2 separate regions of the Homo sapiens genome follow, and region 2 is linked to region 1. Evidence: fine-mapped expression QTL. A gene starts in region 1. The other region holds a variant in brackets. All regions are shown on one strand. Distances are between the middles of the regions.

Region 1 (5,372 bases):
TAGTGGGGCAAGCCAGGTGCAGTGGCTCCCACCTGTAATCCCAGCATTTTGAGAGGCCAGGCGGGAGGATTACTTGAGCCCAGGAGTTCAAGATCAGCCTGGGCAACATGGTGAGATCCCATCTCTACAAAAAAAAAAAAAAAAAATTAATTAGCTGGGCATAGTGTCAAGTGCCTATTGTCCCAGCTACTCAGGAGGCTGAGGTAGGAGGATCACTTGAGCCCAGGAGGTCAAAGCTTCAGTGAGTGGTGATTGCACCACTGCACTCTAGCCTAGGCAACAGAGTGAGACCCTGGCTCAAAAATAAAATAAAATAAAATTTAAAAGATGGGACCACTGTAGTCACCTCTGTGATTCTAGAAAGACAATCTGATGAAATGAGGGAATGGCTGGCAGTCCCTAGGTCATGCTAAAGGACTGTGTGTTTTTAGAAGAGTTTTTATCCCCATATGTTTCTGGGTGGGAAAACAGGAGATGGTGGGAAAAGAGAGATCTAAGAGACCAACAGGGCAGCCGCAGTCTTCTGGCAGGAAGTCTTGCCTTAGCTGGATTCCTCTAAAGCCTTGCTGGTTTCAGCACTCCGATCCTATCCACAGTAAATGGAGTTTTAAAATCTCCTCCCTCCACCACCTTGTGCTCTATCCCCTGACCTCAGATGTCTAATCAGAGCCATTAATTCCATCCAATCAGAGATCTTGCTTGGCAGACACAGAATTGCCACACCTTCTACAGTCTATACTCCCCTCCCCTGCCTAAAAGCAAGGTGCTTGGGGACCCAGAAATTAGGCCAGGTCCTCATAACCTTATCAAAATAGCACTGCTAGGCCTTCCACCCAGCAACACTCAGAGACAGGGCCAAAGAGTGGGAAACGGAGCATCCAGGGCCTCAGCCAGCAGAGCCCAGATGCCTTCTGCAGTTAAGATCCCTGGACTCAGAATCAGAAAGCTGTTAAGCAGGAAGGAGTGCGCTGCCATGAAGAGGCAGACAGAAGCCAGAGCCAGTGTGTCTGGAATGCATCAGGTAGATGAATGGGAAGATGGCTGGGATGGAGTTGGAGGGAGGAGGGAAGTCAGCAGCCAGGGGCCAGGACATTCATGGCCTTAAAAAGTATCCTACAAACAAGAAGCCAGGTTAGCTCACCTATGAAGAGGGACAGTCTTACCAGATCATGTGTTAGAGTCCCCAGATCCTGGGGAGCGTGAGAAAAGTGCAGACTCAGCTGGCTCTAGTACTAGATTAAGGAGGTCCTAGGTGGGCAAGGCCAGCTGCATTTTTCATAAAATGCCCTAGAAACCTCTGCAGTTTACCAAAGTGAATAGCTCCTTTGGACTTAACCATCTGCAAGGCTCATTCCAGTTAGAGTGTTCCATCACCCTAAATGCTGGGAAACCAAGCGAATCTCCTCCCACTTGCAAGCTTCCAACAGTGGCTTCCAACAGTGCCACTGCAGTATCAGAAACTGCAGGGAAGGTGCCAGGGCTGACTTCCATGAAGAAATAGGAGAACAGGCAGGCAGACATTGGGGAGGCCCACAGAATGTCGTGATCAGAATTCATAAAGAGGCTGGCAGGATACAAATCAATCAAATAAACGTTAGTTCAAAAAAATTCACTACACCTGTGAGTGAGAGAAAGTCATCAGCACTGTCTCTAAAAATGAGCCTAGGGCTTCTGGTGACATCCAATCGGTGGGTTATCAGGAGTGCCCCAGGTGATCAGGAGTTGGCCTCGACTCAGTCCTTTTTGTGCTGTCTCCTCCTCTTTCCCAGAGTTCCTCTCTCTCTTCTCCCACTAGGCAGGGATGAGCAAGAGGAATGGCTCACCCTTGAGAGCTGGGGTCCATAGCCCAGGTCAGTTCTCCAGCTCTCCCACTTACCAGCCAAGACAGGAGGTGAGGATTGAGATGGGATGAACCCAGCAGGCGGCCATGGGTTAAAGGTCGCCATGAATGTAATGTGCCCAGCACAGTGCCTGCTAAAAGGCAACACTCCCTTCCTGGTCTGAAGACCAAACAAGCAGACTGTACTCAGGAAAGCCAGAAGAACCTTCCAGCTGTCTGGACCAGAAGGTGCCAGCCCAGGGGCTGAAGAAGACGTAATGCCCAGAGCAAAAAGCGCCTGCAGCCCCCTGAAGGGCTGGGTGCTCTGGAATAGATGAGGGGGCGAAATGGGGCTGGGGACCAGGGACGGACAGGGTGGGTCCAGCACCTGCCTCGCTTCCGAAGGGCTGCTCCAACACTGAAAAACACCCAACCAGCTTCCTTTCAGAAAGACTGGAATATTCCAAAACTTCTCACTGGAGGCTCCGGAGGAGGTGGGCTCCAGCTGAAAAGGAAATGTGGAGGCGTGGGCGCTCCCGGCCTGCATCCTGCACCTCTTACACTTTGGTTTTCCCACAGACTCCTGAAGAATAGGTCAGAAGAAAGGGTTAAAGCCTTAAAAGGGGAACAACCATTGCGGGGCTCAGGGAGGAGGATAATGTTCTTTGGGCTGCCGCACCCTGATCCCCGGGGTCCCGAACCCTCCCGTCCCTGGCCAGGCCTGCCAGCCACAGGGTGAGGGCCCCCTTCCGCCGCAACCTGCCACTCTCACACCAATGCGGGACCGCCTTCTCTTCCTTCCCCACCCCCCACCCCACCCTGCCGTCCTTTCTCCCCCAATCTCCGCCTCTGATTGGCTGAGCCCCCGGCTCCCCGCTCCCCCTCTCCTCCATCCCCGGTGAAAACTGCGGGCTCCGAGCTGGGTGCAGCAACCGGAGGCGGCGGCGCGTCTGGAGGAGGCTGCAGCAGCGGAAGACCCCAGTCCAGGTGGGAACTGGAGCCGGTGGGACCTGGGGCTCGGGGACCGCCGTCAGGCGCCCATGCAAGACTTCCCAACACTAGGCTTCGGGCCACGGTCCGAGGGCGCCCAGGGAAGAAGGGCGCAGAGCTTAGGGAGGGGCCTGCTTTCCAGGCAGGGGCGGGAGGGGGATGCTTCTGCAGGGCAGGGGCCGCGTGGCACCCTGATGTCTTTCGGGGAAGGCGCTCCCGGGCTTTCGCCCGCTGGGGGACTGGTGTCTGGGGCTGGGGCGCTGGAGAACAGGGAGGAAGGGCACCAAGGACAGCCTGTGGGTCTACATTCCACCCAGACGTCCCCAAACCCAGCTCGCAGAGGCGGGGAGGAGGACGGATGAAACTGCGGGGAGAGGATGGAGGATGGCGAGCTAGAGGGAATCTGCCGGGTGACCTCGCGGCGGGCTGGGTGCGGGGCACCGGAGGAGAAGGAAGCCGCAGTGCCGCAGGCGGGGACTGGGTGGAAGGCGGGCGGACGGGGGAGGGGAGAGCTGGAAAAGGATGAGAGAGGGGGAAGGGGGACTCATTTGGGAAAGGAGAGGATTGGAATACGGAAATGGATTAAGGATGAGGCCCGCCGGGGGCTTGAGAGGGAGGAAGAGCAGACCTTCTCTGGGTCTGGAGCCGCCTGAGGACACAGACCAGAGGAAATGAATACAGACTGCACCTCCCCAGCCGCTCTCCACCCCTCCCCTGGCTCTTCTACCCTCTCCAGCCCCAGACCCATTTCTTCCCTTTCTTGCTCTGGCCATTGCTCCCCCTTCCCCTCCTAGATCCCAAGCCCGCACAACATCTCAAACAAGAGTCCTCGATTCAAAAGCCAGATGCCGACCCCCCTTCCTCCTGGATCTGGCTCAGGGCAGCAGCTCCACCCCGGGACAGAGAGAGCATTGATTGTAGCTGCAGCCGCCGCGGGATCCTAGCCTCACCCGTCAAGGGGCTGAGCGCCAGGGACCCTGAACTCGTCTAGTGGTGCGCCCTGCGCACCCGGGCGCACTCAACCGAGGCAATGCCCTGCGCGCTCTCGCGGGTGCACGCCCCTTCTGTGGCCTCTCCTGGGCGAGCACTGCTCTGCAGATAGGCTAGACTACCGGCTCCGCGTCGCCTCGCCAAGGGTTGGTTCAGCCAAGGCTGCAAAAAACAAAAAAAGACCAGGCAGACAGCCTATCCAGGGTGGCTATTGAAACTGGGCTGGAAAACTGCAGTCCCAGGAACTCCAGAGAGCTGGACATTGGGAAGCATCCTTGGCTCACATACAATCGGAGATCACTATGTCTTTCTCTCCTCCAGGAACACGATTAGCTTGTGTCCTATCCAGATAGGAATAGATGCTCCCTATCTGGGAGCATCCTTAGCTATGGTGAATGGTATCTAGCCATCCACTGGGGATGGCGAGTGACTTAGGGATTTGTGTCTCACGTATATGAAGCAGTCATCGCCAGATGTTGGTTGTTTTTCTTAACCCCCATCATAACCCGGTGGGTATGTAAGATTCAGAGAGATTCATTCATTCATTCACAATAAATATCTTTGGAGTGTATGCTATATGCCAGTAATCTGCAAACGGAAACGGTTTTGAGCATTGGGGATTTTCTTCTGAACAGGAAATGGGAAGTCCCTAAATGGGGAGTCTTTGTTTAACAGATACAGAGTTTTACTTTGAAAGACAAAAAGAGTTCCGGAGATGGGCTGCATAGCAACGTGAATGTATCCAGCACTGCTGAATATACTGAATTTAAGTACTGAATTTAAATGGTTAAAATAGTAATTATTATGCTTTTTGTATTTTACCACGATTAAATTTTTTTTTTAAATACGAAGCCTCAGCCCTCATAGGTCTTATATTACCATACACTATGTTAATGTAAGAAGAGGAGAAAGAGTGGTAAAGTTACTTAAAGTCACCCAGCTAGTAAGTGCTCCATGGCCAAGCGCAGAAACACACCGTGACTGGGCTTGTTCTCCCTCCTTCCTTGCTTTCCCTGAGCAGGAAAGAGCCAGTGGCAGTATCATGTTCAGTGAGATGCAGGGACGAGAGGGGGAATGGAGAGAGGGACTTAGATGACTGCCATAGCCACTATGCCATGTTCCCAGGGACCCCCAGCCCTGGTGGTAAGTGTGGCACAGCTTGGCTGATTCCCATCCTGTTCCCACCCCAGATCCAGGACTGAGATCCCAGAACCATGAACCTGGCCATCAGCATCGCTCTCCTGCTAACAGGTACCCGGCATGGGGCAGGACTGGGGCTCCAGGCGCCCTGGCTTCCTTCCCTCCAGAGAAGCAGCTTCTCCCTCACAGTCTCAGAAAAGCGCAGGTGACAAAGAGAGGGCTCTTTTTCATCCTGAAGTCAGCCAATCCACCGCGCTGATATTCTGACGGCCTGAGGTGGTTTTTGAAAACACAGTTTGCTGAGCCCTCCTTCACACTATTGAACTAGAATCCCCAACTGAGAACCCGGAACCAGCATCAACTCCCTAAGATCTCCTGTCCTTGAAACACATTGATAGGATCCAAGGCTCAAGCAGAGTGGGGAGGGAGGCTG
Region 2 (5,372 bases), 55 kb before region 1:
ATGCATAAGTAAGGTCAACACGTAAAACAGACGGTGTATTAGAGGGATGAGCACCCAGGAGAAAAATAAAGCCGGAAGCGGTGAGTAGTGTCAGGGAGGCTGTGGTTTTACACAAAGTGGCCAGACACGGTCTCACCCAGGCAGTGACATTTGCGTAAAGCCTGGGAGGAGACGAGGAGAGAGTTGAGCAGACTTCTGAGCTAGGGCATCCCAGAGAGCAGGCACAGCAAGCGCGAAGGCCCGAGGCCTGCCTGGAGGGTCTGAAGAACAGAAAAAGGCCCTGAGGATTATGTGGAGGCTGGAGAGGGCAGGGGTGGGGGCAGACCCTGAAGGACCCTGTGGGCCATGGCGAGGGCTTTGCCTCCATGACATGGGGCTTCATGGCCGGGCTCTGAGCAGGGGGATGGCGTAACTAGCTTGTGTTTTAAGAGGATCTCTCTGGGCACTGTGTTGAGAACAGACCGTGGGGTCAAGGGTGGAAACAGACATCAGTTAGGAGTCCACTGCAACCTCCAAGCACCTTGGCCCTGGGGTAGCAAAGACAGTGGGGAGGTGAAAATGGCAGGATTCTCCCAGGTGTAAGAGAGAAAGGAGTCAAGGACGATGCCAAGGCCTTGGCCTTAGGTAGAGAAAGAAGCTGTCCCAGTACTGTCTTTTGCTGAGGCTCAATGGGAGAAGTCAGGAGTTCCGTTTGGGAATTGACGGTCAGAGTTGTCAGGTGAAATGTCACGGGGGCTGTTGATAAATGAGTGTGGAGCTCAGAGGAGAGGCCCTGCCTAGAGCTACAATCCGCAAGTCATCAGCACTTGGGTGACATTCAGAGTGAGACCGGATGAGATATCAGACACTCTGAAAGCAGAGCGAAGGGACCAAGGAGAGAGCCCCAGGGCCCTCTGACATTTCCAGATCAGGAAGATGTTGAGGAATTGGGGAGAATGAGAAGGAGGAGCCAGCGAAAGAGAGGACACCAGGAAGGGGGGCTCCCAGGAACCCAAGTCAGAAAAGAGGAGGAAGCGACCAACCACGTAAAAAGCCACTGATCCTTAAGTCAGGGCTGAGAAAGGTCCCCTGGGGTTAGCAATGTAGAGGTCACTGGTGACCTTGATTGTGGTCAGAGTGGGGACAAAAGTCTGACAAGAGTATGTTCAAAGGAGAATGAAAAGAGAGAAATCAGAGACAAGTTGAGACAATTCTTTTGTGGGATTTTGCTGTAAAAGAGAGAAGAGAGATGGGGAGCTAGCTGGAGGGGCCGTGAGTCAAGAGAGTTTTTTCAAGGCGGGAAAAAATACGAGCTTGCCTCCATGCTGACGGGTGATTGGGGTACAAAGGGAAAAACGTATTGAAGGAGAGGTCAGGGAGAAATATGAGAGTGCTGTCCTCAAGCAGATGAGAAGATCTGACTGTGCTTCCAGAGGAGATGCACTTCACAGCCGCCAGAGGGCTAGAATGGAACACCAGGCAATCACAAGAATGGGGAGAAACTGGAACCCCCAGGCCCTGCTGGTGGGAATGTAAAATGATACAGCCACTTTGGATAACAGTTTGGCAGTTCTTCTAAAAGTTAAACCTGCAGTTACCATATGACCCAGCAATTCTACTCCTAAGTATGTACCTAAGAGAACCAGAAACATACAACCACACAAAAACATGCACACAAATATTCATAACAACATTGTCTGTAAGAGCCAAAAAGTAGAAACGACACCAATGTCTATCAACTGACCAATGGAATATTATTCAGCCATAAAAAAGAACAAAGTTCTGATACAGGCTACAACATGGATGAGCCGTGAGTACAAAATGCCAAGTGAAAGAAGCCAGTAGCGAAAGACCACATGGTGTGTGACTCCATTTATATGAAATGTCTAGAACAGGTGAGTCTGGAGAGACTAGATTTCTTCAGAGACAGCATAGATCGGTGGTCTCCAGGGACCAGGGAGGGGGAATGAGGACTGACTGCTAATAGGAACGGGGTTTCCCGTGGGGATGAAAATGTTCTGGAATTAGGTGGCGGTAAATGTTACAC[A/C]ACTCTGTGAACACGCTAAAAAGCACTAAATTGTACACTTTAAAGGGGTTAATTTCATGGAGTATGAGTTATATCTCAATAATAGTATTTTTTTGAAGATCTGGTCATACAGAGTGGAGGGGTTGCCTCAGCCCAGGAAGGAAGCAGAAGACCCAGGCAGATGCAAGCAGGTGTGTGGTGTGGGGGTGGGGACCATGGACATTCTCTCCCAGTGGCTTCTATTTTCTCAGTGAGACAGGAAGTGACATCATCAGCTGAGAGTAGAAATGGAGGCTCCAGGGAAGAGCACAGGGACAGAACAGATATGTCACCGCAAGAGGAAATGAATGGGCTATGGAGATTCAGGAGGATTCCCAGGCAGCATCAGGCCCACGGGAAGGAAGCAAAGGTGCTGGGAGGCAGGGGGCAGTGGTCCCATGTCAAGTGGGCCCAACAGCCTGAGAGTGTGGAGACCTGGGTCACCAGCATTGTGCTCCCCACATAACACGGTTCGCCCACTCTCTGGACATACAGGGGTTCCCATGGGAGTTTGATACAAACCCTAAAAATATGCCTACCTACTACCCATCACCTTTTAAAATGCACATTCCCTGTCACTCTGCAATTCCTCTTGGGGAATTCAGTCTCAGAAACACTTGCATGCAGACACAGCTGCATATGCAGGGATGCTCACAGCAGAATTGTTAGCAATCTCAAAAGATGGGAAACCACCTAAGTGTCCATTACTGGGTAAGTGGTTTTTAAAAATTATAATACATCCACACGATAGAATACTCTGAAGCAGTAAAAGCCATGAAGTGGTCCAGACGTACTAACATGAAAGGATTTCCATGGCATATCATGGGTGGAAAATCAGGTTGCAGAATAATGTGTGTAATATTATATAATTTTCTTTCCTTTCTTTTTATACAAAATGGTATGTATGCATGTGTGTGTTTAGATTATTAAAATATACATAAGGCCTGGAAAGGATGCACTCTAAATTATTAATGGTGTTTAATCTCAAGAACTAGGTTTTGCAGGAAGGGTTGAGGGGGTTGATGAGGCAGAAGGGATTTCAGAGGGAGGCTTTCATTTTGTGCTTTTTATGTTTTTTGAACTATGCTTTTTGAACATGTAACATGGAGCATATATGCTTTGGAAATTTAAACAGGAAAGAAGGCTGAGCTCAGTGGCACATGCCTGTAATCCCAGCACTTTGGGAGGCTGAGGCAGGAGGATCGCTTGAACCCAAGAGTTTGAGGCTGCTGTGAGCTGTGATCACACCACTGCATTCCAACCTGGGCAACAGAAGGAGACCCTTTCTAAAAAATAAAATAAAATAAAATAAAATAAAATAAAAAGGAAAGAGCTCATTGTGCCCTCTTGCGCTTCTTTCCCTCTCTGGACTAGAGGACCCTGGAAGGCCAGCATCCTCCCTAGCCCAGACAATGCTGTGCATTGGTCCCTGGAGATCATGGCGGGTCCTGACACCTGGGCTTTCCCTTTGCCCACCTCTCTTCACCCCCAGACAAGGGATGAGGTTCAGAAAAGCAGGAACACTTGCAGCACCCAAACCTCCACTTTTTCTCCTCCCCTCACACCACCACTGCTCCCCTCCAGCTACCTCCCTGGGGAAGAAGGTGTCTGATCAATCCAGTAGAACCAAAGCGGAGAGAGGTAGCTCCGTAATGCTAATAGCATGGGTTTATATAATGCTTGCTGTGTACCAGGCACCATTCTGAACACTTCTCATGAATGAACTCACAACAGTTCTATGGGTTCCACACTATTACTTTACTATCCTGCATTGTAGATTTCAAAAACACAAACAAACAAATAGGAGTCACAAAAGGCCAAGTAATTTGCCCGTGATGCTACTACCATCTATCTGTAAGTGGAACCTGCACAGTGAGGCTGCAGAATCGGCACACTGACCTCTGCAAGCCGTGCCCCTGCGAAGCCACAGTCCCGCCCTCTTCATTCCTTCCTCTGCTCTTCTGTGGCTCTGGGTCACCTGACGTCTGCTAGGGTCAGGTACTCTCCAGGGCAAGACTGTGGCATCCTCAACACAGACCCCCCGCGCTGACACACGCCTGGCAGCCAGTGAGTGCTCAGCAAGTGTCTGTTGAATTAACTGTGGCGTGCACCACCCTCTCTCCCGCCCAGGGATGAGCAGATCCTTTCCCCTTCAGAGCAGTCCAAACAAGGCAGCAAGTTTGCTCAGGAGCCTTCCGGAGTACTGAGTGGAGAGCAGCCCATGGGGATAGAACAGAGGCTGCCACTGAGCTCCTGCTCCTGCTGGATCAGACTCCTGCTCTGGGTCAGACCACTACCGCCCTGGCTGTCCAGGTCCAGCTGCTGGTAACGGTTTGTGTTGGGAAGGGTTCCTCCCAGGTTGGCCTCAACTCCTGTCTGCCCTTGACTGAGCTGGACTCAAGCCTTGCAGCTGCCCCATCCCTCTCCCAGAACCTGGCCCCACTCCTTGGGGTTCAAGCTGCAGAAGGGTGAGCCCAGACAGCCCATCCCTGAGGCCTGGATCTGGCTACCCTTCCTCCAGCTCATCCACTCCCAGCCACCTTGGCTACTTCCACCCTAGACACAGCTAGGTGCTCACCCTGAAACAGGAAGTCCCCACAGCTGACCCTTCAGTCCTTCGCTTTACCTGCAGAAACCCCCAAGCTCTTGTAGCTCTAAGTCCCCTGAGAGCTACTCACAAGTTCAAGTTTTCAGGCTGAGGGTCATCAAAGCCCCTCTGTTCATTTGCAGAACCTGGAGCAGAGCAACATCTCCACAGACCAGCTCACCTGGCCAGTTCAGAGGCAACTCTGCCCACTTCCTTGGTCCCCCTGTGACTTCCATGGCATAGAAATTTGGGAATTCAAGCTTCCATCTATCCATCCATCCATCCATATATCCATCCATCCATTCATCTACTCAGCCACATGTCCAGCCACCCACCCAACCATCCATCCACTCATCCATCCATCTATCCATTCATTTATCCAACCATCCACCCATCCACCCATCCATCCATCCGTATATCCACCCACTCATCCACCCACTCATCCACCTATATATCCATCCATCTATATATCCATCCATTATCCATCATTCATCCATCTATTCATCTACCTACCCATCTTTCCACCCACCCACTATCCATCATTCATCCATCTATTCGTCTACCTACCCATCTTTCCACCCACCCACCCACCATCCATCTATTCATCTATATATCCATCCATCCATCATCCATCTACTTATCTACCCACCCATCTATCCACCCATATACCCATCCCTCTCTCCCTCCCTCCCTTCACCCATCCATCCATATATCCATCTAGCCAACCAGCCAACAAATGTA

Evidence for each region. PIP is the estimated chance that this variant, and not a neighbour inherited with it, causes the effect.
Region 2: its variant is fine-mapped to the expression of THY1 in thyroid (GTEx, PIP 0.97).

Annotation. Positions count from the first base shown.
Region 1 is chr11:119,420,547-119,425,918 of GRCh38, reverse strand. It overlaps THY1 (Thy-1 cell surface antigen), which reads left to right and starts at 2,747. Exons shown (of 4, transcript NM_006288.5): 1 at 2,747-2,806; 2 at 4,990-5,050. The coding sequence starts at 5,014. The region is part of intron 2 of USP2-AS1 (USP2 antisense RNA 1); the gene reads right to left. RefSeq lists enhancers at 2,869-3,434, 3,435-4,001.
Region 2 is chr11:119,475,961-119,481,332 of GRCh38, reverse strand. All of the region lies in intron 3 of USP2-AS1 (USP2 antisense RNA 1), which reads right to left. Among named protein-coding and RNA genes, the nearest start is that of THY1, 55 kb to the right of the region's middle. RefSeq lists enhancers at 3,720-4,219, 4,220-4,721. The variant A/C (reference allele first, on the strand shown) is at 2,027.